Homo sapiens: one gene and its partners. The protein of the gene in region 2 purifies or fractionates together with the protein of the main gene of each other region. This does not show direct contact. Each region holds a gene or a part of one and is shown on either strand. Other genes may lie near its edges.

Region 1 (3,962 bases), on a different chromosome or scaffold from region 2:
ACAGAGTCTGCCTGCCCTCCCTCAGTGAGCCTGTGGGCCGCATGTGGCCTGCTCCCCAAAGAACGGAGGTGCCCGCTCCCTGCTTAGGCCTTCTGCCAGCTCTCAAGTCCCCAAAAGACAAACATCCTCACTAGGACCTGGCTACACACGGGACATTTGTGCTCCCTGCCCAACTTCCAGAGTCGGTCTGCCCCAGTTGCCCCCCGGGGACCCGCACCCTGCTGCCTCCCAGTCCAAGTCCAGCTTCCCCGCTGGCTCCCTAGGGCCTGTCCCTCTGTCTTGCTCCCTTCCCACACCTTCCTTCTGCTCTGTGCTGTTACCCACCTTACCTGATGCAGGAGTTCCCACTCTCTAGCCCCAGCCTCTCCTGGAAATCCGACAGCCAGCAGAATCCACCGCCCAGGCTCCCCCAGCCCCCTTCACTCCTCAACTAGGACTGCAGGGTTTCCATCCCGGGGGTCTCCTTCTGTCTTTACCTCTACTTCCTACCGCAGTCCACAGCCTGGCCATTCTACTTCCTCTGTATCTCTCCCATCCGTCCCTACGGAGACCCCTTCCCCCAGGCCTCTGGTCCGGACCGAGTCTACCACAGGCCTCAAGCATCCTGCTCGGTCCGCCCCTTGCGAGCTCTGAGTGCGCAGGAGTGCGCAGGGGGAGCTGACCGCACACCCCAGCACTACAAGGACTTCGCGGTGGGGTGCTGTGGAGTTGGCTTTCGGCCTCGACCTGGGCTGTCTGCGGGCCCCACTCCCTTGGCCGGTTCCGAGGCGCTGGGAGCGGGGGTGGGCTTGCGGAGTCGCGTCCGTGTCCCCGATCCGCCTTCCCGTCCCGGGCCTGGCCTACGCAGTGGGCGCGCAGGGGCGGCTGCTTCGGTAGATGTCTAGGGAGCGGAGGGAAAGGCGCGGGAACCGGGGATTCCTCGGGCGGACCCTCCCTCCACCAGCGCTCGGCGGGCCTCCTCCAAGTTCGCCCCCAAGTTTGCGAGCGGCCAAATGGGGGCGGGGGCTGCGCGGAGGGGCGGTGGCTAGGCCGGAGGGTGGGGTCTGGAGCGCGGGGCGGGCGCTGCCGCCTGGCCGGCCGCGGCTGGCCCGGGATCAGGGAGCCGATGTGGAATTTCCTGCCCGGCTCGGCGCCCCTCCTGCCGCCCCCCGCCCGGCCTCGCACTCCGCTTCCGGCCGCTCTCGCTGCGGCCGCACCCGCGCCCGTGCCCGCCCCGCGCCTGCCCCGCGCCTCATGGAGGGCGCAGGGCCCCGGGGGGCCGGGCCGGCGCGGCGCCGGGGAGCCGGGGGGCCGCCGTCACCGCTGCTGCCGTCGCTGCTGCTGCTGCTGCTGCTCTGGATGCTGCCGGACACCGTGGCGCCTCAGGAACTGAACCCTCGCGGCCGCAACGTGTGCCGTGCTCCCGGGTAGGAGCCGGCCTGGCTGGGGGAGGGGGCGAGAGGGACGCTCTGGGCAGTGGTGTGGCGGCGCCGGGCATTGGGAGGGGGCTACCGGAACCTTCCTACGCCAAGTGTGGGCCCCTTCGGCTCCCTAGCCAGCGCGGCTCCGTTCCAGGCCCAGCCTCGGCCATGGGCCACGACAGTGCATCCCAGGGAACCCTGGACGAGAAGTCACCTGAGGGGAGGATGGAGTGCCGTGGGCACCCAGGGGATGACACGCGTTGTCCGGGATATCAGGAAAGACCTGGAAAAAGGGACCCTTGACCGAGTTGTGAAGTCCACGGGGAAAAGCTGGGGAAGGGCATTCAAGCCAAAGGAACTGCATGTGCTAAAGCCCCGCACTAGTCCGACTGGAGCCGGGAGTGGGAGTGAGGAGGAAGGTCAGGGGAGGAGGAGCGGTGCTAGCCGGGGAGGTCCTGGAGCAAGCCAGACTTGGAAAGACAGATTCGCGTCTTAGAGCGGGCGCGGGTGGGAGGGTGGTGACCCAGGCGAGCGTCGAGGAGCCGGCGCTCGAAGTGGACCAGAAGCGGGAGGCGGAAGGACTATGACAGGCACAGGGGACCGGAGGATGTGGGAACCCTGGCGACAACCAGGTGGGGATTCTGGGTGCAAGAAGGGGCCGCGCAAATGTGGGGCGCCGGCTGGGGAAGCCAGTGTGGGACAGGCAGGCGACAGGCCCGGCCGGTGGGGGGGCGAGTCCGGGAGTTTGCACGGAGGGCAGAGAGGTGAGCCCCGGACGCCAGGAGTTAGGAGCTGGGGTCGGGGGAGCCGGTGGGCTGGCCAAAGGCCACAAGGTCAAGGGCATCTCCACGCAGGGGTGAGGAGCGGGCGTGTGGGGGCGCCTTGGCGCGGATTGGAGACGCCGCACGGGCTGGCAGCCGCAGAGGCGGCCGCCGGGCTCCGAGCTGGGTCGCGTCGGGGCGCCTGAGCCACGGACCCGGGGCAAGCCGAGTCCAGGGGCTCGGCGCCAGAGACAAGGGGCTGCGAGGGGGCAGCGCGGGGTTTCCGAACTCTGGTCCGGAGGCGCGCAGACCCCTCCCCGCTGCGAGCCCCGCCTCCGGGGCGGGGGCCGGCCTGGCCCGCCATCTGCTTCGCATCGATGCCGCCGCCGCGGACTCCCGGGCCTCCCCGGCCCCAGGAATGCAGCGGCGGCGGCGGGCGGGGCGGTGCCTGGAGAGGGGGAGGGCGCGATCGCCGTGGTCTCTGTCTACTCACTCCAGCCCTCTTTCCCAGACAGGCCCGGGACCAGGAATGGGGGTCCGGTGCCAGGCTCTAGCTGTCCGGAGCCTGAGAGCCCTTTGCTCCCGCTCCCCTGGTCTGCAGACCTCCCAGGAGGCGCCTGCTCCAGGAACCGAGCCTGGGTTTGGGTTCCCATCCTGGTGCCACCCTACCCAGCTGTGTGGACCTGGGCAAGTCATTTGACCTCTCTGGGCCTGTCTCCACCTCTGTAAAATGGGATAGTGATCACAACCCCCTCATGGGGCTAAGTGGAGATCGCTGTGGTCATGAGTGGCAAGGGTCGATGGGAAGGACAGCCACTCTGGGCACTGCCCACCTGGGGTCTGGGTCATGTCTTTGTTGTCCTCCCACATCTTGCAAGGCTTCCATCAGCCCTTCCCTTTCCTGGGAGGCAGGAGGATGGGGAGAGGAGAGTGCAAAGCCAGTAAAATCCTATGCACCTACACTGTGCCAGGCCTGTATTGGTGTAGGGAAGCTGCAGTGGAGACCCTGACCCTGTGGCAGAGGAGACACAGTCCAGAAAAGCAAGTGTGTCTAGACATCTAGCAAGAGCTGGGAGGTGTTGGGTTGGGGAGTGCTGTTTCCTTTAGGGTGTTCTGAGGAGAACGGCTGAGAAGGTGGTGAGTGAGCACAGGCCTGCAGAAGAGCACGGAGGCCCTGTGGGTGTCTGGGGCAAGGTTCCCAAGGCAGAGGGCCTGTGGAAGTACAGGAAGGATCCAGGAGGCTGGGCAGAGTCCAGGAGGGGCTGGCGGAGGAGCTGCCAGAGAGTGAGGGTGGGCAGGCCACCGTGGGCTGCCACTGCTCAGAAGACTTGGGCTTTTCTTCTGAGGGCCATGGGACCCCCTGGGGGCTTTGTACAGAGAAAGGGTGGGATCTGACCAGGATTGGCTGCCAGGTGGCAAACACTTCGCACCCTGGGGGGCAGGGGGTGGAAGCTGGGGCCAGTTACAAAAAGCCAGGGAGATGGAGGGTGGCTCTCACAAGGCTGGGATAGGGAAGGAGGAAGTGATCCCATTTTAGATATCGTTTAGAAGCTAGAGCTCAGCGTCTTTTTTCTCAATGGATCTGGTGTAGACAAGAAAGAAGAGTCAGAGATGCTTCTCCAGGTCTCAGCTTCCCAGCCTGAAAGGACAGGCAGGGTTATCTGAGGCAGGGAAGACTCAGGGTGCAAGGAGGTCAAGAGTTCAGGTTTGGGCTGGTTGGGCATGAGGCCCATGAGGTCTCCTTCTGGTGACATCATCTATTGGGCAGTTGGATTTGCAAGTCTAGCATTGATGGGGAGAG
Region 2 (2,648 bases):
CAGTGAGTGATACCCTTTTCTCCTCCTTCTGCTGAGACCAGAGTCCCAGTCAAGAACTGGGCCAGGCCGGGCGCGGTGGCTCACGCCTGTAATCCCAGCACTTTGGGAGCCCAAGGCGGGCAGATCACAAGGTTAGGAGTTCGAGTCCAGCCTGACCAACATGGTGAAACCCTGTCTCTACTAAAAATACAAAAATTAGCTGGGCGTGGTGGTGCGTGTCTGTAATCCCAGCTACTCAGGAGGCTGAGGCAGGAGAATCGCTTGACTTGGGAGGTGGAGGTTGCAGCGAGCTAAGATGGCACCACTGCACTCCAGCCCAGGTGACAGAGCGAGACTCCATCTCAAAAACAACAACAACAACAACAAAACTGGGCCAAAAAGCCAAGAGATGAGGAGCAGTGTGTGCTCCTGGATCTCTGACATTTGCCTGGTGTGCAGGACCTATCGGCTAACAGGGAGTGGGTAGGGGCTCCTTAAGCACAGACCCAGGACTTCTGGCCAAATGGCATCCTATTCTGAGCTCAAGTCAACAAGAAACAGAGGGGAGGTGCCAACTTGGGAAGAAGGTAGAGGCCAAAGAACATCCCAGGTGCCAGAGGTGGAACCAGGTGTTCATCTTCCCAGCTTGTGGCCTGGCTTCCCCTTAGTCCCTGGCTCTGCTGCCTCCTCCACCAGGAGGGATGCCCTCCTATTTCAGAGATGCTGCAGGCGAAAACGAAGGAATCTCGAAACACGCAACTTGGATCCGGAGAATGGCAGTGGGATGGCCCTTCAGCCCCTACAGGCAGCTCCAGGTGACTAGAGGAGAAAATTTGAAGAGTAGGTTCCAAGCTCACAGTCCTTACTTGCAGCCACCAACACTGTCCTGTGCTTCTTCCCGCAGAGCCAGGGGCTCAGGGCCAGAGGGAGAAGAACAGCCAGCACCCACCAGCTCTGGCCCCTCCTGGGCACCAAGGCCACAGTCATGGGCACCAGGGTGGCACTGATATCACGTGGATGGTCCTCCTGGGAGATGGTCTACACAACCTCACTGATGGGCTGGCCATAGGTGTGAGGGGTGGGAACGGAGGGAAGCAGGTCCGAGGGGAGGCCAGGGCTCCTAGTTATCAGCTGGGGCTAGGAGAGGGCCGTCAGGAAGATGGGGAGAGGACGGGAGGACCACGGAACACAGGAACCTGCTTCTGAGGAGACTTTTCTTCTGGACTGACAACTTCCGACCCTGCTGGCCCCAGGTGCTGCCTTCTCTGATGGCTTCTCCAGCGGCCTCAGTACCACCTTAGCGGTCTTCTGCCATGAGCTGCCCCACGAACTGGGTAGGAATGGCAGGAGCAGGGTGGGGTGGACTCCAGAAAGGAGATAGCTCCAAGGGGTAGAGCTTGGAGGCTGGTGGGTGGCATGGATGAGGGGCACCCCAGCTTACTCCCTCCCATCCTGTCCTCTGTCTCCAATAGGTGACTTTGCCATGCTGCTCCAGTCAGGGCTGTCCTTTCGGCGGCTGCTGCTGCTGAGCCTCGTGTCTGGAGCCCTGGGATTGGGGGGTGCAGTCCTGGGGGTGGGGCTCAGCCTGGGCCCTGTCCCCCTCACTCCCTGGGTGTTTGGGGTCACTGCTGGGGTCTTCCTCTATGTGGCCCTTGTGGACATGGTGAGAGATGTCGGGTAGAGCAGAGAAATCAAGGGCAGTGGGGAGGCGGGAGTGGAGAGGGAGGTAGCAGTCCCTCCGCCTCTACCATTAGCTCCTGGAAGGGCGTCAGACCATAGGCCCGCAAAAGTCTGAGAAACAAGGGACTAAGGTGTTTGGGTGGGGGCTGCTGATGCTTTCTGACACCATTCCTCTGGAGTTGAGAGGTCAGGGGCAAGGCCAGAATCCTGACATCCTCTTTTTCTTTCAGCTACCAGCCCTGCTTCGTCCTCCGGAGCCCCTGCCTACGCCCCATGTGCTCCTGCAGGGGCTGGGGCTGCTGCTGGGGGGCGGCCTCATGCTTGCCATAACCCTGCTGGAGGAGCGGCTACTGCCCGTGACCACTGAGGGCTGATGGGGCCAGTGGAAAGGGGTCGGGTTGCCCTTCCTTCCCCCCAACCACAGGAATGGAGGCGGGACACAGGGCCAGTAGGAGCAATAGGATTTTAATAAACAGAACCCATCCCAAAGCCATGACTACGACAGTTGTACTTGCACCAAAACAGCATAGAAAACCAGAGTGTGGTGGGAGGACCCGAAGCCGGTTGGGGGAGGATGTGAGTAGGGGCCTGGAGGGTGCAGGGTCATTAATCTGCGGGGAGAACATTGTGCTTTAGCCCAGGGAGGGGAGGGGTGGGGCAAATGCACCGAGGTCCCCACTTTTTCCTGCTGCCCTCGGCACCCTGGGGATGCAGGCATCTGGGCACATCTGCCCCTTATTGCTGCCCACCAGCGTTAAACGCCCCCGATCCCAACACTAGCACCACAGGTGGTTCCGGGGCAGGGAGAGGCAGGAATGGGAAAATTGCTTAGAGAAAGATTCCACTAGAATCCAGTGAATTGTGCTCAGTTCTCTTTACTTCCTACAACCGAGTACATGGGTCACAGGGTGGAGGGTGCAACAGGACATGGAACATGCCCCTCCGTGCCCCCCAACACACACCTGCACACAGGATGGTGGTGTCTGCAG
Region 3 (3,500 bases), on a different chromosome or scaffold from region 2:
AGGGAAACAGGCTTGTGCAAAGGATTCTGGGAAAAGGATGAATGATGGGAATGACCAGTTTCCTAGTGTCCCCTGTCAATTTTTTCCCAAGACCCCAAACTCTGCCCTAGCCTCCATCCTCCCTTTCAAACTGCTGAATCTTGACCCTTCTCCTCTCCGCCTGCGGACCCAGCTTTACTTAGCCTTTCTCAGCCCTCCTGTCCTTCTCCTCTCCCCAGGCCCGGGGTTAAGAATGTCGCTTCTAGAGGCAGACTGCCAGGTCTGGATCCCAGATCTCCACTTAGCTGTAGTCCAAGTATCTAAACTCTCTAAGCCTCAGTTTCCTTATCTGTAAAATGGACTAAGAGCATATATTATCAAATCCAATACACCACTGACTGTAAGATGCACCATGATTTCAGGTACCAGTAAGAAAGGAAGAAATGCTGCCAGTTATAACGATGGCATCATCAATCATAGGCATAGCCCGAGTTTAGAATTGTGAAAATGTGACACAGCGCATGTGTTAGACGATGAAATACAGGAATAGTCCCACCTCCGGCATGGGCTGATAGGAGGTTTCAGTGAGTGCTCTGTGAATGCTGGGTCTTAAATCATGCCTTCTCTAGCCTCAGCCCAAAAGACTCTCTCAAACACAGCTCCTTCCTCTGATCTTGGGGCTCCCCCCAGTTCTCTTTCCCCCTCCCTCGTCCTCACTCCCTTTGCCCCATCTTGCCCACAGAGATCCTGATCAAGGTGCAGGTGTATGTGAGCGGGGAGCTGGTGCCCCTGGCCCGGGCCTCAGTGGATGTGTTTGGGAACCGGACTCTGCTGGCAGCTGGCACCACAGACTCAGAGGGTGTGGCCACCCTGCCCCTCAGTTATCGCTTGGGCACCTGGGTGCTGGTCACTGCTGCCCGCCCTGGCTTCCTCACCAACTCTGTGCCCTGGCGTGTTGACAAGCTGCCCTGTGAGTGCAGGGGCAGGTGGAGGGGGGGGACAGCAGCTGACCCTCCATCAGCCCCTTCCCAAAATAGTCTCCTTGGGGGTGGAGGGGGAGGCTTTCCAGCAGCTGCTGCCTGGGCTGGGGTACACAGAGGGGGCTGAGGGAGGGTGAAGCCTCTGGGACTCAGATGGAGGGGGTGCCTGGCTGGGGGGTAGGGGGTGGGTTTTCCTGGAGCTGACCGGCCATCCCTCCCGCAGTGTATGCGTCTGTCAGCCTCTACCTGCTCCCTGAGCGGCCGGCCACGCTCATCCTCTATGAGGACCTGGTGCACATTCTCCTAGGCTCTCCCGGTAAGGCTCCCCCTCACCCACGCCAACTCTTCTTCCTTCCCCTGACCTAGGTGTAGAGACCTCCACTGTCCTATATTAGCTGGGTGTCCTTGGGCAAGTCACTTCACCTCTCTGAGCCATAATTTGCTCATTTGTAAGACGTGGAAGGTTAGTGCCTACATCATCAAATTGGAGTAAGAAATCACAAAGTGAAAAAACACAGTACAGAAGGTGTTCAATAAATGTTTACAGTTATCGGGGCTTCTCGTGGTTTCTATTCTCCATCTATTCCTACCTTCCCTGCCACCTTTATCTTCAATGGGTCTACACAGATTTGTTGTGCACCTGCTGGATGCACAGGTGCACAGGAAGTGCAAGGCCCAGAGCAAGCCTGCAGTTCCTGGTCTACCCCCAGGCTTTTGGTCTCGCTCAGCTAGTACTTACTTCAACTCCTAGGCTGTGCCAGGCATTGTGGCTGGTGCTGGGAACCACGGTGAGGAAGAAGACCCGCTCTTTGCCTTTGGACGTTCACAGACAAGTAGGAAGACAGATCATTGCAAGCCCTGAAATAGTTCCAGAGCAGGCAGGGCAGTGGAGTGGAGGGCAGCTGCTTTCAGTGCTGAGACGGCCCTAACCTGCGAGGGGACCTGGCTGGGTGAGAGCTTGTCGAACGGAGCAGTCAGCCCTCGACTCAGGAGTGAAGGGGAAGCAGAGGCACCTCCACTGGAGAGGAAGGCCAGGGGGAGACATCAGGTGGAGGGTAGTAGAGGACAGTGAGGGTTTGGGGGCTCCATTCCGCTTAGAGGGCCATGGTGGGTTTCGGAGTTTGAGGAACCCCATCCCAGTTTGTAGTCTCAGCTTGAGCCCTTGTCATGGAGCTAGTTTTTGTTGTTGTTGTTGTTGGGTTTTTTTTTGAGATGGAGTATTGCTCTGTTGCCCAGGCTGAAGTGGTATAACCTCGGCTCACTGCAACCTTTGCTTTCTGGGTTCAAGGGATTCTCCTGCCTTAGTCTCCTGAGTAGCTGGGATTACAGGCACCCATCACCACGCCAGACTAATTTTTGTATTTTTAGTAGAGACGGTTTTGCCATGTTGGCCAGGCTAGTCTCGAACTCCTGACCTCAGGTGATCCACCCGCCTCTGCCTCTCAAAGTGCTGGGATTACAGGCGCGAGTCACTTCACCCGGCCTCACCAAGCTGCTCTTGTTTGCTCACCTTCGTCACTCTGATCCCAAGCTTCTAAGTGCCCCTGCAGGTTTCTAAAATACCAGTGGACCCTTTGTGGCCCCCTAGCTTGAAGCCCCTGCATGGCGCCTACTGCTTTCAGTACCAAGCCCAGGTGCCATCTCAGAGCTGACTGCACCCTCCAGAGCCCGGGCCGCCCTCTGCCCCACGCCTCTGGGCCTTTCTCATGCCAGGCCTCCTGGATGTCCTTTCCCTCTTTCTTTCCTGGCTGAGTCTTCCACATCCTCCAAGACTCCACAGGGCCTCCCCTGAGCTGAGTGAGACCAGCTCCCCTAGTCCTCTGCATCCCTCTATTTGGATAGCAAGGCAGGAGGAATGGCATGGCAGAGGATGGGCCTGGAGCCCGATGGCCTGGGCTTCTATCCGGGCTCGAGGATTGTGACCTCGTGCAAGTTACTGAACCCCTGTGCCTCCATTTCTGCACCTCTAAAATGAGGTTGATAATAGATACCTAGCTCAGGGGCTATTTTCCTAATTGCAGGGGTTAATATAGGTAACCTGCTTAGAACAGTGCCCAGCATAGCTTAAAGATTAATAAATGTTAGCTGTGACCATATTGTATTGGAATTGTTTGTATGTCTGTCCCCTCCACCCCAACACACACACACACACACACACACACACGACCTAAACTGTCTAATGCAGTAGCCACTAGCTACATATTAAATTGAAGTAAATTAAATTAAAAATTCATTAATTTTTTTTTTTGAGATGGATTCTCACTCTGTTGCCCAGGCTGGAGTACAATGGCATGATCTTGGCTCACTGCAACCTCTGCTGCCTGGGTTCAAGCGATTCTCCTGCCTCAGCCTCCCGAGTAGCTGGGATTACAGGCGCCTGCCACCGCACCTGGCTAATTTTTGTAGTTTTAGTAGAGATGGGGTTTCACCATCTTGGCCAGGCTGGTCTTGAACTCCTGACCTCGTGATCCACCTGCCTTGGAATCCCAAAGTGCTGGGATTACAGGCGTGAGCCACCGCGCTCGGCCTTTTTTTTTTTTT
Region 4 (3,500 bases), on a different chromosome or scaffold from region 2:
ATCAGCACCTCCTTCTACTAGGTTTAAGCGCCTACTCCTACCCAGCAGTCTGTTTACCACATTTTCTAAAAATCATTTTCCTTATGTTTGTTTCAGCCAGTTGCACAAGGGTAGGGTTTGAGGCATATTGATCTCTATACCCCACTACTTAGCCCAGTGTCAAGAAAGCACTTAATAAATGTATGTTTGTGAATGTCACCCAGAAGGGTTCATTACCTTACCTTACCATTGGTTTCCAGGACTGGAAATTCGATAGAGGTAGTTTAGGTTAGGCCAGGCTTTAGTCTTTGATTTAGGAGCTGTTATAAAGTCATCTGGAATCCCATTTCTTTCCTTTTTTCTGCTCTGCCTTTCTGAATGGCCCACTTAATCTTAAAACTGGCTCCTTCTCAGGGCTGCAGATTGGCTGTCAGCAATTTTGTAGGCCAATCTTTCCTAGACTTTGTGTATACCTTTGTACAGGGGAAGGGAAGGTTCGGTGGGAGTGTGTTAAGAGAGTCTGAGCTTTTTACTGATTGAACCACTTCAGAACCAGTCCCAGTGGCCAGGGAGTGCCATTTGCATCTGGGTAAAGTCCTGAATTCCTTGAATCAATCATGATAAAAAAGTGGAGAGAGTGACCCCGATTGGCTTAGATAGACTGGGTTCACCCTGGAGCTGGATGGGATGAGCTTTCCCTGAAGCACATGAACTACAGGAAGAATGAGCAGAGATCTACCTGGAAACCTGACTCCTGTTAGGAAGGGAGAATATGGATGTTGTGTGGGCAACCATCAAAGTCCACTGCTACTGTAATCCAGATTTTCTAGGGAACCTAGACTATTTATAACTATTCTGTCCTTTATATAATAAAGTCACTTAGGAATTTGTTGATTGCCTGTTATGGAAAAGAATTAATAGTGAAATTATTACATTTTGAATCTGAGACTCTTCCCTACTATTTGGTTGGGGATAGAAGACACTCAAATAGGTAAAAAGTTAACTATTGATGTAAGATATGGGTAACAGTACAAGGCAGCAGTATGACAGATGATATGTTAAGTGAGTCATCCTTAGAGTTTATACTTTGCATTCCCCAGTAATTGTTTGTTTGTTTGTTTGTTTGTTTGTTTTTGAGACGGAGTCTCACTTTGTTGCCCAGGCTGGAGTGCAGTGGCACGATCTCAGCTCATTGCAACCTCTACCTCCCAAGTTCAAGCGATTCTCCTGCCTCAGCCTCCTGAGTAGCGGGACTACAAGCACATGCCACCATGCCCGGCTAATTTTTTGTATTTTTAGTAGAGACGGGGTTTCACCATGTTAGCCAGGATGGTCTCAATCTCAACGTGATCCGCCCGCCTCGGCCTCCCAAAGTGCTGGGATTACAGGCATGAGCCACCACACCTGGCCATTTGTTTGTTTTTAATCTGAAAGTCACCGTGCCAGGCACTGTGGAACTTAAAGAGATAATAGAAACAAGACGCTGGCCCTGAAAACTTCAAGCCCAATCAAGAGAATGATTAACAGGCTTGGGGGCTGGGAAGCGTGGCTTCCCTCACAGAAGCAAACCATGGAGGACAGGGTCCTGTAAACACAAATAAATGTTCCTGGTGAGCCCTCCAGAGTCTCAGGGGCCTGGATGGGCAGAGGAGACGCTTGGCATTCTCTATAAACAGCGCTGTCCAACTGCTCAGAGCAGCGGGTCTGGGGAGAACAACCAGATCACCCCAATCCCCAGAGCAATGGTGATGGTTACAAACTTTGGTTGGTCATTGCTGCCAGTGCTGCTCGTTAGAAGGCCCCACTGTGGCCCAGCCCTGTTGATTGGAGGGTTTCTAGTAGTGGATCAGCGTCCACTGATGAGACTCATAGTGCTGTTAGAACACTTTCTTAAAGCTATCCAATCACATTTATGGACACTTCAGAGGAATTAAAAAACAAAATATCTTGCTATTCATTTAACACATTTATTTAGGGGACTGCCTTGTACCAGGCACTCTGCAGTGCTCTAGGGACATGGTGGTGATCCAAAACTTACTTGATATCTACTGTCACAGCCTACAGTCTAGTGGAGGAAATAGACAAAAGGCAAATAAATATATAAGATAATTGCCAATTATAGTGATGGTGAGAAGGAAACAAAATGGGCAGAGCTAGAGATTTGCACAAGGCTTGATACACCTTGAAGGTATTTTGTAAATGATCTTATGGGTTAGGATTTTATTCCTGATGATTTCCACAGTTAAATGCAAATAATTTTCATTCTTTTTGTCTCTTAGGTGCACTTTACAGGTCCCCGATGAACCAAGAGAACCCTCCACCATATCCAGGCCCTGGTCCAACGGCCCCATACCCACCTTATCCACCACAACCAATGGGTCCAGGACCTATGGGGGGACCCTACCCACCTCCTCAAGGGTACCCCTACCAAGGATACCCACAGTACGGCTGGCAGGGTGGACCTCAGGAGCCTCCTAAAACCACAGGTGTGTGTCTCTGAATATGTGGGTGTGCAGTCCCGTGTCACTAAAGGAAATGTTTGCATGTTTTCTTTGGCAGAGAAGAAATTCTTTCCAGCCTTTGCAACTTGTGCTTGATGTCCCCAAAGCTTGATGATGGCTTAGGGTGGATTCTCACTCCTGAGAAGAGGCCCAAGTCAGCTCTGCCTGCTACATTCACACCTCTTGTCCCCTCTGGGGCTGATGACTTCCTGGCCAACGTGTTTTCTGAGGGCTACCCTCTAGAGCACTTGGGGGTGGGGAAGGAATTAGCAGTTGAGTCTTTGCTCTGTAGCCAGCTTTGTATTTTAGGTTTAGTAATTAGCCTCTTGAGTTTATTTTATCTGTCAGCTTGTTGACCCTCAAGTCATCCTCTTGCCCCTGCTACTGGGGTTTTTCTTTTTTTTCTTACTAAATGTTTTCATAATTCTATTTAACCTGCCAGTTGAGTTTTCAGGAGGCTCTTGAGTCCTTCTTGTGTGCTATAGAACAGTGTTACTCAAAGTTCAGTCTGTAGACAAATGCCAGTCAATGAACAGTGAACAGTTATGGACTATATTATATGTACAGAAAGTGAGAGTAAACATTTAGAAACTTTTAGAGCAATTTGGTTTTGCTGTGACATCCAAGTATGTAATCTTGCATTTTACAGAAAGTATCAGTCTGAAAGATTAAAAGTAAAACATCTTGAGGAGCACTGTGCTAGATGTCTTGGTCACTATTTTGTAGCCCTTTGGTTGGCAGAATAGCTGCTCTCTTAATTAGCCCTTTCAGCTTTTTTTTTTTTTTTTTTTTGAGACGGAGTCTCACTCTGTTGCCCAGGCTGAAGTGCAGTGGCGCGATCTCGGCTCACTGCAAGCTCCGCCTCCTGGGTTCACGCCGTTCTCCTGCCTCAGCCTCCTGAGTAACTAGGACTACAGGCGCCTGCCACCACGCCCGGCTAATTTTTTGTATTTTTAGCAGAGACTGTGTTAGCCAGGATGGTCTCAATCTCCTGACCTCGTGATCCGCCCCCCTTGGCCT
Region 5 (3,500 bases), on a different chromosome or scaffold from region 2:
TGTTGAATGAGCCAGTGTCTATTATAGAATCTGCCATACCTCCCACACACCCTTCCATGTATACTGATTGCCTATAGCAGGAATTTCGGGAGAGAGGTTATGAGACTCTCCTGCAGTAAGATCAGAGGAGATATGCAGTTTTGAAAAGCATATGCAATACCATAAATAGTTGTGTATTTTTAAAATAAGAATAACTTTCAAAATTTCAAATAACGTTAAAGGCCGGAAAACTTAACATAACACCAGCCTGCCAAAAGCATTCAAACTCTTAGGTGGCGTATGAGACCTTTCATGACCTGGCTGCTGCTCTCTATACATGTTGCATTCTCCAGTCCTGTGAAATTATTTCAAGTTTCTTTTTTTTTTTCTTTTTGAGACAGGTCTCACTCTCACCCAGGCTGGAGTGCAGTGGCATGATCTTGGCTCACTGCAACCTCCGACTCCCAGGCTCAAGTGATCCTCCTACCTCAGCCTCCTGAGTAACGGGGACTATGGGCGCATGCCACCATACCCGGCTAATTTTGGTATTTTTTCATAGAGATGGGGTTTCTCCACGTTGCTCAGGATGGTCTCGAACTCCTGAGCTCAGGGGATCAACCCACCTCAGCTTCCCAAAGTGCTGGGATTACAAGTATGAGCCACCACACCCAGCCTCAAGTTTCTAGAGCTGTTCTATCAGCCTGGACAATCCTTCACCAACCCTGTCTACCTAGAAAATGCCTATTTATCCTTTCTAGATTCAACTCTTGTCAATTCCTTTAGGAAGATTTTCCTGGCCATCATTAGGAGATATTAATTGCTACCATCTCAAGGTATCTATATCATCTATAAAACTTAAAATTTCATGTTTCCTTTTCTAACTTCCTCATCAACCTATGGGCTCCCTGAGGTCAGAAAACTCCATGTTATTTGTCTTTGTATCCCCAGTGCCTAGTGTGGAAACTGACACATAACAAGTGTTTAATACGTGTTCTTTGAATCAGTGGATGGAAGAAAATTGAGTCTCTCCAAAGTGGTAGATGAGTTTACTACTTTAACACTCTGGATAGGAATTTAGGAAATGCTAATGTGATCAGCATGCCTATGTCAATGGTCAACAAAGGGAACGACTTGCACTAAAGAGTCCTGGTAGTATAGTTCTCATATAAACCTATTTCAAAGAAACCCACAGACAGACACATTTATCTGTGACGGTAGAAGTCAGAGAGAAGAGTTAGAAAAGGCCCCCAGGGCTGCTGACAGGGCAAATACAGTCTCACATGCACTACAAAGACCCGACTCTGACACCTTTCTCCAGCTTTCTCCTGTGTGCATTCAGCTCACATGACCAGTGCAGCCAGGCCGCACCAGAGGGAAGATGAAGGCCATTGTATCTATTGTCCTTTCATCCACCCCTTTTTCTAAATTCTATGGGATTACCCTGAAAAGGACACTGAGGGAGAAAGCTAGGGAGATAGTTTCAGTTTTATTCTTTCCATTGTACTCCAATAGGCATTACAGTTTTATGCCTGAATGTTCAGGTATCTTAATTTATTTAACCCTTTAAGATAAGTAAGGAGGAAGAAAAGTTTAGGTAGTAGCTGAGAAGCAACCAGCCTTACACTGCCTTCTTAGAGCTTTCCCAGGACTGTCCCAACAACCAGTATGGTTGTTTATTGCTGTGGTGACCACAAAAAAATGGGCTGGGCAGGTTGGCTCACCCCTATAATCCCAGCACTTTGGGAGGCCAAGGCAGGGATATCACTTGAGGCCAGGAGTTAGAGACCAGCCTGGCCAACATGGCAAAACCCCATCTGTACTAAAAATAGAAAAATTAGCCAGGCATGGTGGTGCATGCCTGTAATCCCAGCTACTCCCCGGAGGCCGGAGACACAAGAATTGCTTAAACCCAGGAGGCTGAGGTTGCAGTGAGCCGAGATCGTGCCACTCCCCTCCAGCCTGGGCGACAGAGCGAGACTCTACAAAAAAAAAAAAAAAGATAAGACCAATCCTTATGTAAAATGAAAAAAAGATAATCTGTAAAAGTACTTCTTGTGCGGTGTCTGAACCAACCTTGGAATGTCCTTAGTGGGAAAGAGTAAGAGAGATTACAAAAGACTGTAAGGAATCTGTGTGAGCAGGTGGCAAAGGTGAGATGATCTTCTGCTAGTCTCCTTATTCATCTGACTTTCCATGTATTAACTGCTAAATGGGGATAATGATGACTGACTCCTACTTCATAGAAATGCTGAGATTAAGTAAATAGTATCTACAAAGTACTTTAAACCAGAAAAAGATATGTAATAAAAGGACAAAGACACCATGTTAAAAGGAATAAAGGTAGAGGGGGAATTTTTTCAGTTTTTCAAATTTAATAGCCCATATTAATCTCTTGGATTTTTTATGTTACTGAGTGATATTATAGTCAACAAACATTTGTTGAACACCTCATATGTGCCAAGCAGTAAGGAAAACAAAGATCAATAAGAAATGATGTCTTCTTGTAAAGGGGTTGCAAATTCAAGAGGTATACGGCAAGTAGAATAACAGAATTTAGGTGAGGATTTATTCGTTCATTCAGCATTACACAAATATTTATTGAGCATCCACTTTATATAAATTAAGCACTGGAAATAAACCACAAACGAAACAAACTTGGTTTCTGCCCCCCTGAAATTGATAGTCTTGTGGGTGGAACTAGACAATAAAGAGGTAAATATATAAATAAATAATTGCCAATTGTGATCATTGTCATCAAGGAGTGAACAGGTTGCTGTGATAGAGAAAAATGCCGATAATGTAGTGCAAACAGTTAGATCCACCCTTTCTGAGACAGGGATATTTAAGCTGAGATTTAAAGGACAAGACCAAAGGAAGACCCAGCAAGAAGGCACAGGAGACATCATGTAAAGCCCTGAGGCAGAAAGACCTTGGTGTATTCAAGGAAAGGCAAGAGATAGAATGGAAAGTAATCGTATAGTGTATAGATTTTATTGTTAGGGTGATTATGTCATTTTCTAAGACAGGTAATGCAGAGGAAGGAACAAGTTGAGGGGAAAGATAATTTTAGTTTGGTATATGCTGAATTTGAGTTACTTATGCATATCCAGGTGATGTTAAATAAGCAATTGGATGTACAAATCAGGAGCTTAGGGAAAAGGTGTACATGTATCAGTCCTCATAGAGATGACTCCAGGAATCTAAACAACTAGAAATCATCAACTAAATGCCATTAGGTGAAGCTGGGGAAATTGGTGAGATCACCTAAGCAAAAAATGTGTATACTGAAATGAAAGTGAGAACTCTGGTCCAGACAGAGCAAGAAGTGACCAAGAAAAAGCAATTAGAGAAGTAAAAGGGAAAACCTAGGGAAATGGTGTTGTGGAAGCCAAGAAGATAAAATAATTTTAAACAAAAATGATTCAATGTCATAAAAGAGCCAATGAAACAAGGATTGGAAAATGTTGAATTTTGCAACCAGGGGAAAACTTATTACCATAGTGTCGTAGTGGTTAAAGCCC
Region 6 (3,500 bases), on a different chromosome or scaffold from region 2:
TTGGACACTCTGCTTTAGATAATATAATTTTTTATCTGTTTCTCATGTAGAATATATATTATGAGCATTTTCCCATGTTGTAAATGTTTTTAATAACATATAAGGAAAATCTTATACTTCCGGTTATATCCCTGTTATGATCTTTATACAAAATATTTTTATTACATTTCATTTTGGGTTACCAACCTTTTGAGTTCCTTCTTAACAAAAAGCTTCTGGGTAAGTAGGCAGTTGAGAGCAGAACAGTAGCTCTTAACTGGAATGGTGAGAACTCTTCTCAGTGTTGGCAGTTTTAGGGGACTTAATAAACAATACCCTTTTCTACCATTCAAATTGAGCCACTTGAAAGAATAAAGGGAATCAGGCAGATGGAGGTCTGGTAGTGTATGGCCCAGCCTACTTGGGGTGTCTCTGTCCTCTCCCATCCTTATATTTTAGAACATAGGAACTAATTATGACTACAGTCATAAGCTGCTTGATGCTGCCAGTTACTAACCTTCCCCACATATTTTATCTTTTTTTTTTTTTTGAGATAGGGTCTTACTCCTGTCATCCAGGCTGGAGTGCAGTGGCATGATCATGGCTCACTGCAGCCTCAAGTTCCTGAGCTCAGGTGATTCTCCCACCTCAGCCTTCCAAGTAGCTGGGACCACAGACGGGTGCCACCATGCCCGGCTAATTTTTGTATTTTTTGTAGAGATGGGGTTTCACCATGTTGCCCAGGGGTCTGGAATTCCTGGGCTCAAGCAATCTGCTTGCCTCTGCCTCCCGAAGTGCTGGGATTACAGGTGTATGTCACTGCGCCTGGCCACCCTATGGTTAATTTTTGATCCTGCTTTTATGACATGGATTTTAGCAGGAGGGTATCAACATACTGTACTTTTCTGTTGTTTGGTGTGTCTTTGTTGGCTTCATTTATCTTTGGAATATTGCTGACGAGTCCCAGAAGCTGTGGTACAGAACTGTCCGTTCCCATTCATCTACTTTCCCATGTGAATCCAATTCTGTTTAAGCATGTGTCTTTCAGCGATGATGCCTAAAGCCATTCACTAAATTTAGATCTCTGAAGTCTGTTACTAAAGACCCCATTTTGCTAATATCTCTGGGTATGCCATTACTCTAGGAGCAATTGAGATTGAGACATATTTTAGTTCTCTGCTGTCAAATGTAAGCCTCCAGGTACTGTTCAGCTGGAGTTTGCAGGCTGTAGGGCTGTTCACGTCCATTATTGCTTTATGAGGTGTTCTCTGTTGTTTACAGTTTGTAGAGGCTCATTTAGGAACTCTGTCTATATGTCCAGGCCAGTCAAAGCCAGATATCTGTAACTTTAATTTCATGTGGAATTCATTCTCAGGCTTCCTAGGGCTTTAATTTCATGGACACAGAAGCCACGCATTTTACCTAACCTCTATAAAGTACTGGTATTATTAGCCACTTTGCTAAATCTCTGGTAATCTTCATTTGATCAGGCCCCGACCCTAAGTTTAAAGTGACTCCCTAAAATCCAGTCAGTGTCTGCTACTTACACCTCACATTTAAATTGATCTCTTAACACTGATGTTTTTGTTTATCCGCTTGTGCCTCCTTTAAATTGTTATTTTCCCAAAGGTCACATTCTCAGAAGTGGTAGCTTGGTGAGGCGAATTTAACTCCTTGTATCAAAAATGAAGTTTGATGGACCTCAATGGTCAGTCATCTTCTGAAACACAAGCTCACTACTCTGGCCTGACAAAGTGCCAGGATTGACCTTGGAAAAGTGCCAGAGGTGAGGGCCAGGCCTTCCTAATCCTGGGCCCTCCATTCTTTAGAGATTCAGTTGGCCTGTTCTCCTACCAAAATTGTGTTACCCTGTTCTGAGCCTTAATGAGAGTTATTTATAGCTTCTGCTGTCTCATGAGAACTGGGTATCTTAAATTGATAGCTGGCAATCCTGCTGGCAAGATTTGTGGCTTTATAATTTGAACAACCCCAGTTGTTTGCTGTTAAAGTGTCCTGACCTCATCTGGTGATGCCTGCTTGACCAGTATCCCAGATCTCTAGATGTCTATCAACCTCCTTATGTCTGGCCGTTCTTCCACTGTGGATGCTGCCCTTACATTCTCTCTTGGGGCCAATCTGATTGTTATACTGTTTATTATTGAGAATTTTAGGCCTATAGCCATCCATTTGTTTGTGGGCGCATGTGTGTTTTTCTAATATCTTCTTACAAAATTAACAGTGTGTGTATTTAAGAGACAATGTCGCACTGTTTTGCCCAGGCTGCAGTGTGTTGGTGTAATTATTGCTCACTGTAGCCTTGAACTCTTGGACACAGTGGTCCTCCTGCCTTAGCTTCCTGGGTAGCTGCGACTACAGGTGTGCAGCACCACACCTAGCTAATTAATTTTTTTTGGTAGAAACAGGATCTCACTATGTTGTCCAGTCTGGTCTCAAACTCCTGGGCTCAAGCCATCGTCTTGGCTCAGCCTCCCAAAGTGCTCGGATTAACCTTGTGGTTTTATCCTAAACAGCAATAAATGAATGGTATTCTAATTCTCTGTGAAGCTAACTTGGCTAGGTTGTCTTTGCCTGAGCTTCTTAACTTGTCCACATAAATAAATCACTATAATCTGGGGTTAACTGAGTATTCCTTGGAGTTTGCAGGGTTCTGAAAGAACCTAATAAACACACAGCTTGGTGAAATGTGAGTTATGTTTCTAAACTTATGACCTCTAAAGTTATTTGTTGTTTGTATGTAAGAATAAGTGGTGGAAAGATAAGCCCCCGAAAATTCTCGATTAGTAATTTATGTTAATTGTATTTTTTCAGTATATTATTATAGAAAGACAGGAAAGGTAAAAGGCACCAAATATGACTTTGGCTGATAATATTTCTGTTTTTTACTCTGAATTCAAGGTAAATTAGCTATTTTGTTTTATTTCTTCTTCTTTTTTTAATAGGGTTACACATCATTTTGGAATGACTGTATATCATCTGGATTACGTGGCTGTATGTTAATTGAATTAGCATTGAGAGGAAGGTTACAACTAGAGGCTTGTGGAATGAGACGTAAAAGTCTATTAACAAGAAAGGTAAGAGGAGTGCTGAGTAACATTCTTTTTAAAGAGGTTGTACTGCTTAAAATGTATGTTTTTACTAGTAGCCTTCAAAAATTAAAGTGGAAGTTGATATTAAAGTTGTCTTTCTTCAATTGTATTTCCATATCTTTTTTGCATTCTTGGTTTCCTGGTTCTTTCACCTACAATGAGTAATGTAATTGATTGTTAAGGTAACCGGCCACTGGATCTTACAAATTCAGAAAGATTCTAGACTTCATTTGCAGCTTTTATTTATTTATTTATTTTTAATTTTATTTTATTATTATTATTTTTTATTGATCATTCTTGGGTGTTTCTCGCAGAGGGGGATTTGGCAGGGTCACAGGACAATAGTGGAGGGAAGGTCAGCAGATAAACAAGTGAACAAAGGTCTCTGGTTTTCCTAGGCAGAGGACCCTGCGG
Region 7 (3,500 bases), on a different chromosome or scaffold from region 2:
AGCCAGTGAGAGTGAAGGCCAAAGCTAGGTAGAACACTAGTCATACTTTAAAGGGGGACCCTACAGTTCTCCCCTCTTACCAGATTAGGAGTAGGAGTAAGGGAAGAGGAGGAAGAGATATCCCGAAGTGAAACTCTTTATCCTCCACCTTACTTCCCCCCACCCTAGGACCAAGCCAAGCTTTTCTGTCTGGGGCCACCCCCAGACAAAGCCCTTTTCTGAAAAATAAAGGGATTGACATGGCTCAGCAGGAAGCCTGAAGCAGGTCACCATGGTAACCCCTGAGGCCTTCCCTCTCCAGCCTCAGATAGCCCTGGGACCCCAGGGCGCCACCCCAGGGAGTAAAAGGACTTGGGGGAGGCGGCCTAAGCTATTCCAGCTCTTCCCCCTCTACCCTAACCCAAGTTCTACCTTCAGCCTTTCTACCTAGCTTAGAAGCACCACGATGCCATCACTGCCACAAAGAATCCTGGGATATGAAAAGCCTGAAGGGGTTGGGGACAGTAGCCTCCAAGGCCCTGGACTGGCCAGAAACCAACTAACCAACAGCCCCCTCCTTGTTTTCTCCGGATAAGCCCTTCTCCACCCATGTGAATACAATTTACAGGGGGCAGGGAGAGCTTGCAGCTAGGAGGGTCTTGCCCAGAAAGCTGCCCACATCCCACCAGGTCTATACTTCTTTCCCTGTCACCCTGCTCTCAGGCTCTAGCAACTTGTGGTCAGAGAATGACCAAAGGGGGAGCCTGGTTCTAGGCCATGCAAGCCCAAGTCTGGTAGAAGCCTCTAGCCTCAACCTCGATTCAGTGACCCCACGACCACTGCACCTGCACCTCCCAGGGTGGCAAGACCAATGGAGGACAGACCCCAAGCCAGAGCTCAAGTCTGTTCTCATCCCAGCTAGGGTGGGGAGCCCCCAAATTAAAGGCTCCTCTTTAACTCCCCCAGCTCCACCCAGCCCCCGAGGCTGGCAGGAGCAGGCCTGGCATGTCCCAGCAGTGCCCGCCCAGGCGTGGGTGGGCAGGAACAGCAGCTGGGTCCTGGCACACACAGCTCTGTCAGAGGCAGGGAAGCCAGGAGAGTCCTGGAGGAAGTCACCCTCCCCATCTACACTGAACTATGCCCTTCCCTCTGCCCCACCTGGCTAAGGCTCGTGTCCATTATGAATTTAATACCCCCCCTCCTCGATGTCGATGTCTGCTTTCTGTGGGGTCCCTGAGAAGAGAGATTCTTAGCTCAGAGAGGAACCAAAGGTGCCACTCAGAGCTCCGCAGGGAGTGTGCCAGGCAGTGAGTTGGCTGCCTTTAGTTCAGGTCACCCAAGCAGTCAGCCCTGGAAGGTAGGCCTAGAAAAGTCAAATGAGGAAGTTGGAGCACTGCTCACCCCACACAGACAGGGCCTGAGTCACAGGGACAGATGCTTGCACACCTGCGAGGTAAGAGGGGAACTCAGGGGCAGGGAGCCAGGGCCTCTTCCCAAACCCCACCTTGAATTCCTGTCTCTCCTACATTTCAAGGCAGCAGGAATGAATGGCACACAACACAGCTCTGCCCCCATAGGCAAGTCATTGACTGGCCTTAGACAAGTCACTTCCCTTGTCCGGGCATATGCCTTCTTATCTGGAAAATGGGACCAATACCTACTTCCCAGGGTTGTTGGGAGCATTCGATGAGATCATATATGAGAATGCATTGTAAGTAGCAAGGTGCCGCCTGCCTATTAGTTAGCATGCCAAACACAGCATTATTTAGAAGTAAAAAGCTGAAGGAGCTTACATTCCTGGCTGCTAGCACCCTGACCCAAAACAATGATCGTGAAACACGCCCAAGAGGGGCTGCTATGGTCTGCGGGGTAAGGAACCCAGAATGTGGCTGGTGAGCACCCCCGTATCTCAGCTCCTCTAATAGTCACAGAGTGGACTCTCCCCCAAACCTGGTGTTCCCATGGCAACTAGCAGCCTCCTGGCTGGCCCACTCTATCTCCTTTAGTCCCTAACCCCAGAAAACAGTGATGCACCATAGTATCCAGGGCCCACGCATCCCCATTCACCTGAGCGGATGAGACAACAGAGAGCCCAAGGGAAGAAAGGGAACCCTTGATTCAGTCCCCACCCCAGCCTCACAGGTCCTTCTTGCCCTTGCCTGGCTGCCCTATGTGGGAGAGGGGAGGCAGGGGAACAGGGGACTTTAGGAGCTGCTGGATTCCCATCACTCTCAGGCTCCCACCTGTGGCCAATCAGCCACAAAGTAGAAGAGGTCAGGTCCCTAACCACCCCGGAAAAGGGCCCCCTGAGCTGGCCTCCCCAGGACTGTGAGCTAGAACAGCTGTGTGGGGCTGGGGCCAACACTTTGGCTTGGAGCAGGCAAGCATGGGTTGGGGTCTGCAGCTGCCCCCACCCATGCTGGAGTCAAGGGTCCTGGATGCCAAGCTGAACCCCCCCACCCCCACCCCCTTGTAGGGAATGTTTGTAATGTGATCTCAGGCACATTCTGACTCCCTGGAGGTGGGGGAACCTGAGTGGGGGGCAGGAAGGGGTCAGGACGGGACTGAGAGACTGAACTGCAGCAGCTGGACTTGGCTGAGGACTCAAGTGTGAGGCCTGCCGGCTGCCCCAAGTTCCCAGGGGAAGAGGCTGCGGGAGGGGTCGCCTAGGACCATTTAGATAACAGCCCCCCAACTCAGACACACACACACACACACACACACACACACGCACACACAGAGGTTCCTAAAAAAAACTCTAGCAGGACCAAACCCATCCCCCCACCTTGCGCTCATGGGGCAAATCTGACAGGAGGGGCCAAGGAGGCAGAAGCTCCTGCCACTCAGGGACTAGCATCCCAGAAGGCCCCAGCACCAATTTGGGAAAGAGGCTTGGGAGTCTTGGGCCAGCCATTCCCGCTTCCCCTCTCAGTCAGGGCTGGGGCCGGGCCGCACGCACCTTGGAACCTGGAAGCGGACCCCCAGCCCCACCACTTCTTTTATTTTGATTTTTTTTTTCCCAAGAAGGAAGCAATTAAGCAGGGTTTATAGGCACTGGGAGATTTTCTTTTTTGGGAGGGGGGTTGCCAGCTTCTGACAGGGCTGAGGAGAGAGACCAAAAGCCAGGAGAGGAAGAGGGGAAGGAAGAGAGAAAATGAGCCTGAGAGGGAGAGCACGGGCATGTGCGAGAAACAAAAGGACTTGAGAAAAAGAGGCAGAGAGTGACTAAGAGTGAGAGGGAGTGTGAGAGCAAGGCAGAGCAGGCGAGCCTAGCTGGAGAGGGGAAGTGAGCGCTGCTCGCGGAGGGTATGAGAGGGCGAACTGACACGGGCCTGAGAGGAGAACTCGGGCAGGAGGCAGAGAGGGAGGGAGACAGAGAGGGACTGTTTATTTGAAAGGCTGTGGCAGCCTGAGGGTTGGGCGCGGTGGCAGAAGCAGCCCCCAAAGCTCAAGGAGAGCTGAGGGCAGTGCCTCCTTCCTGTCCATTTGCCCCCACCACCCCGAGCCAACACATGTAGACA

The links.
Region 1: the proteins of SLC39A5 (region 2) and SCARF2 purify together in Homo sapiens (affinity purification with mass spectrometry; 2 studies listed by BioGRID and IntAct, with this or other methods). This does not show direct contact.
Region 3: the proteins of SLC39A5 (region 2) and FAM171A2 purify together in Homo sapiens (affinity purification with mass spectrometry; 3 studies listed by BioGRID and IntAct, with this or other methods). This does not show direct contact.
Region 4: the proteins of SLC39A5 (region 2) and CYSTM1 purify together in Homo sapiens (affinity purification with mass spectrometry; 2 studies listed by BioGRID and IntAct, with this or other methods). This does not show direct contact.
Region 5: the proteins of SLC39A5 (region 2) and GPR89A purify together in Homo sapiens (affinity purification with mass spectrometry, with the first as the bait; 2 studies listed by BioGRID). This does not show direct contact.
Region 6: the proteins of SLC39A5 (region 2) and GOLPH3 purify together in Homo sapiens (affinity purification with mass spectrometry; 2 studies listed by BioGRID and IntAct, with this or other methods). This does not show direct contact.
Region 7: the proteins of SLC39A5 (region 2) and EFNB1 purify together in Homo sapiens (affinity purification with mass spectrometry; 2 studies listed by BioGRID and IntAct, with this or other methods). This does not show direct contact.

What each region holds. Positions count from the first base shown.
Region 1 is NC_000022.11:20,435,026-20,438,987, reverse strand, and holds the start of SCARF2 (scavenger receptor class F member 2 isoform 2 precursor), read left to right. Parts: upstream 1-1,162; 5' UTR 1,163-1,233; coding exon 1,234-1,406; intron 1,407-3,962. UniProt on the Homo sapiens protein: Probable adhesion protein, which mediates homophilic and heterophilic interactions. In contrast to SCARF1, it poorly mediates the binding and degradation of acetylated low density lipoprotein (Ac-LDL).
Region 2 is NC_000012.12:56,235,699-56,238,346, forward strand, and holds the end of SLC39A5 (zinc transporter ZIP5 precursor), read left to right. Parts: coding exon 1-2; intron 3-675; exon of another isoform or gene 676-697; coding exon 698-794; intron 795-883; coding exon 884-1,048; intron 1,049-1,232; coding exon 1,233-1,313; intron 1,314-1,451; coding exon 1,452-1,642; intron 1,643-1,889; coding exon 1,890-2,033; 3' UTR 2,034-2,148; downstream 2,149-2,648. UniProt on the Homo sapiens protein: Uniporter that transports zinc(2+) into polarized cells of enterocytes, pancreatic acinar and endoderm cells across the basolateral membrane and participates, notably, in zinc excretion from the intestine by the uptake of zinc from the blood into the intestine.
Region 3 is NC_000017.11:44,357,354-44,360,853, reverse strand, and holds part of FAM171A2 (protein FAM171A2 precursor), read left to right. Parts: intron 1-721; coding exon 722-949; intron 950-1,182; coding exon 1,183-1,275; intron 1,276-1,748; exon of another isoform or gene 1,749-1,909; intron 1,910-3,500.
Region 4 is NC_000005.10:140,192,188-140,195,687, forward strand, and holds part of CYSTM1 (cysteine-rich and transmembrane domain-containing protein 1), read left to right. Parts: intron 1-2,258; 5' UTR 2,259-2,278; coding exon 2,279-2,465; intron 2,466-3,500.
Region 5 is NC_000001.11:145,624,988-145,628,487, forward strand, and holds part of GPR89A (Golgi pH regulator A), read left to right. Parts: intron 1-3,500. UniProt on the Homo sapiens protein: Voltage-gated channel that enables the transfer of anions such as iodide, chloride, bromide and fluoride which may function in counter-ion conductance and participates in Golgi acidification.
Region 6 is NC_000005.10:32,143,320-32,146,819, reverse strand, and holds part of GOLPH3 (Golgi phosphoprotein 3), read left to right. Parts: intron 1-2,939; coding exon 2,940-3,071; intron 3,072-3,500. UniProt on the Homo sapiens protein: Phosphatidylinositol-4-phosphate-binding protein that links Golgi membranes to the cytoskeleton and may participate in the tensile force required for vesicle budding from the Golgi.
Region 7 is NC_000023.11:68,832,021-68,835,520, reverse strand, and holds part of EFNB1 (ephrin-B1 precursor), read right to left. Parts: intron 1-3,500. UniProt on the Homo sapiens protein: Cell surface transmembrane ligand for Eph receptors, a family of receptor tyrosine kinases which are crucial for migration, repulsion and adhesion during neuronal, vascular and epithelial development.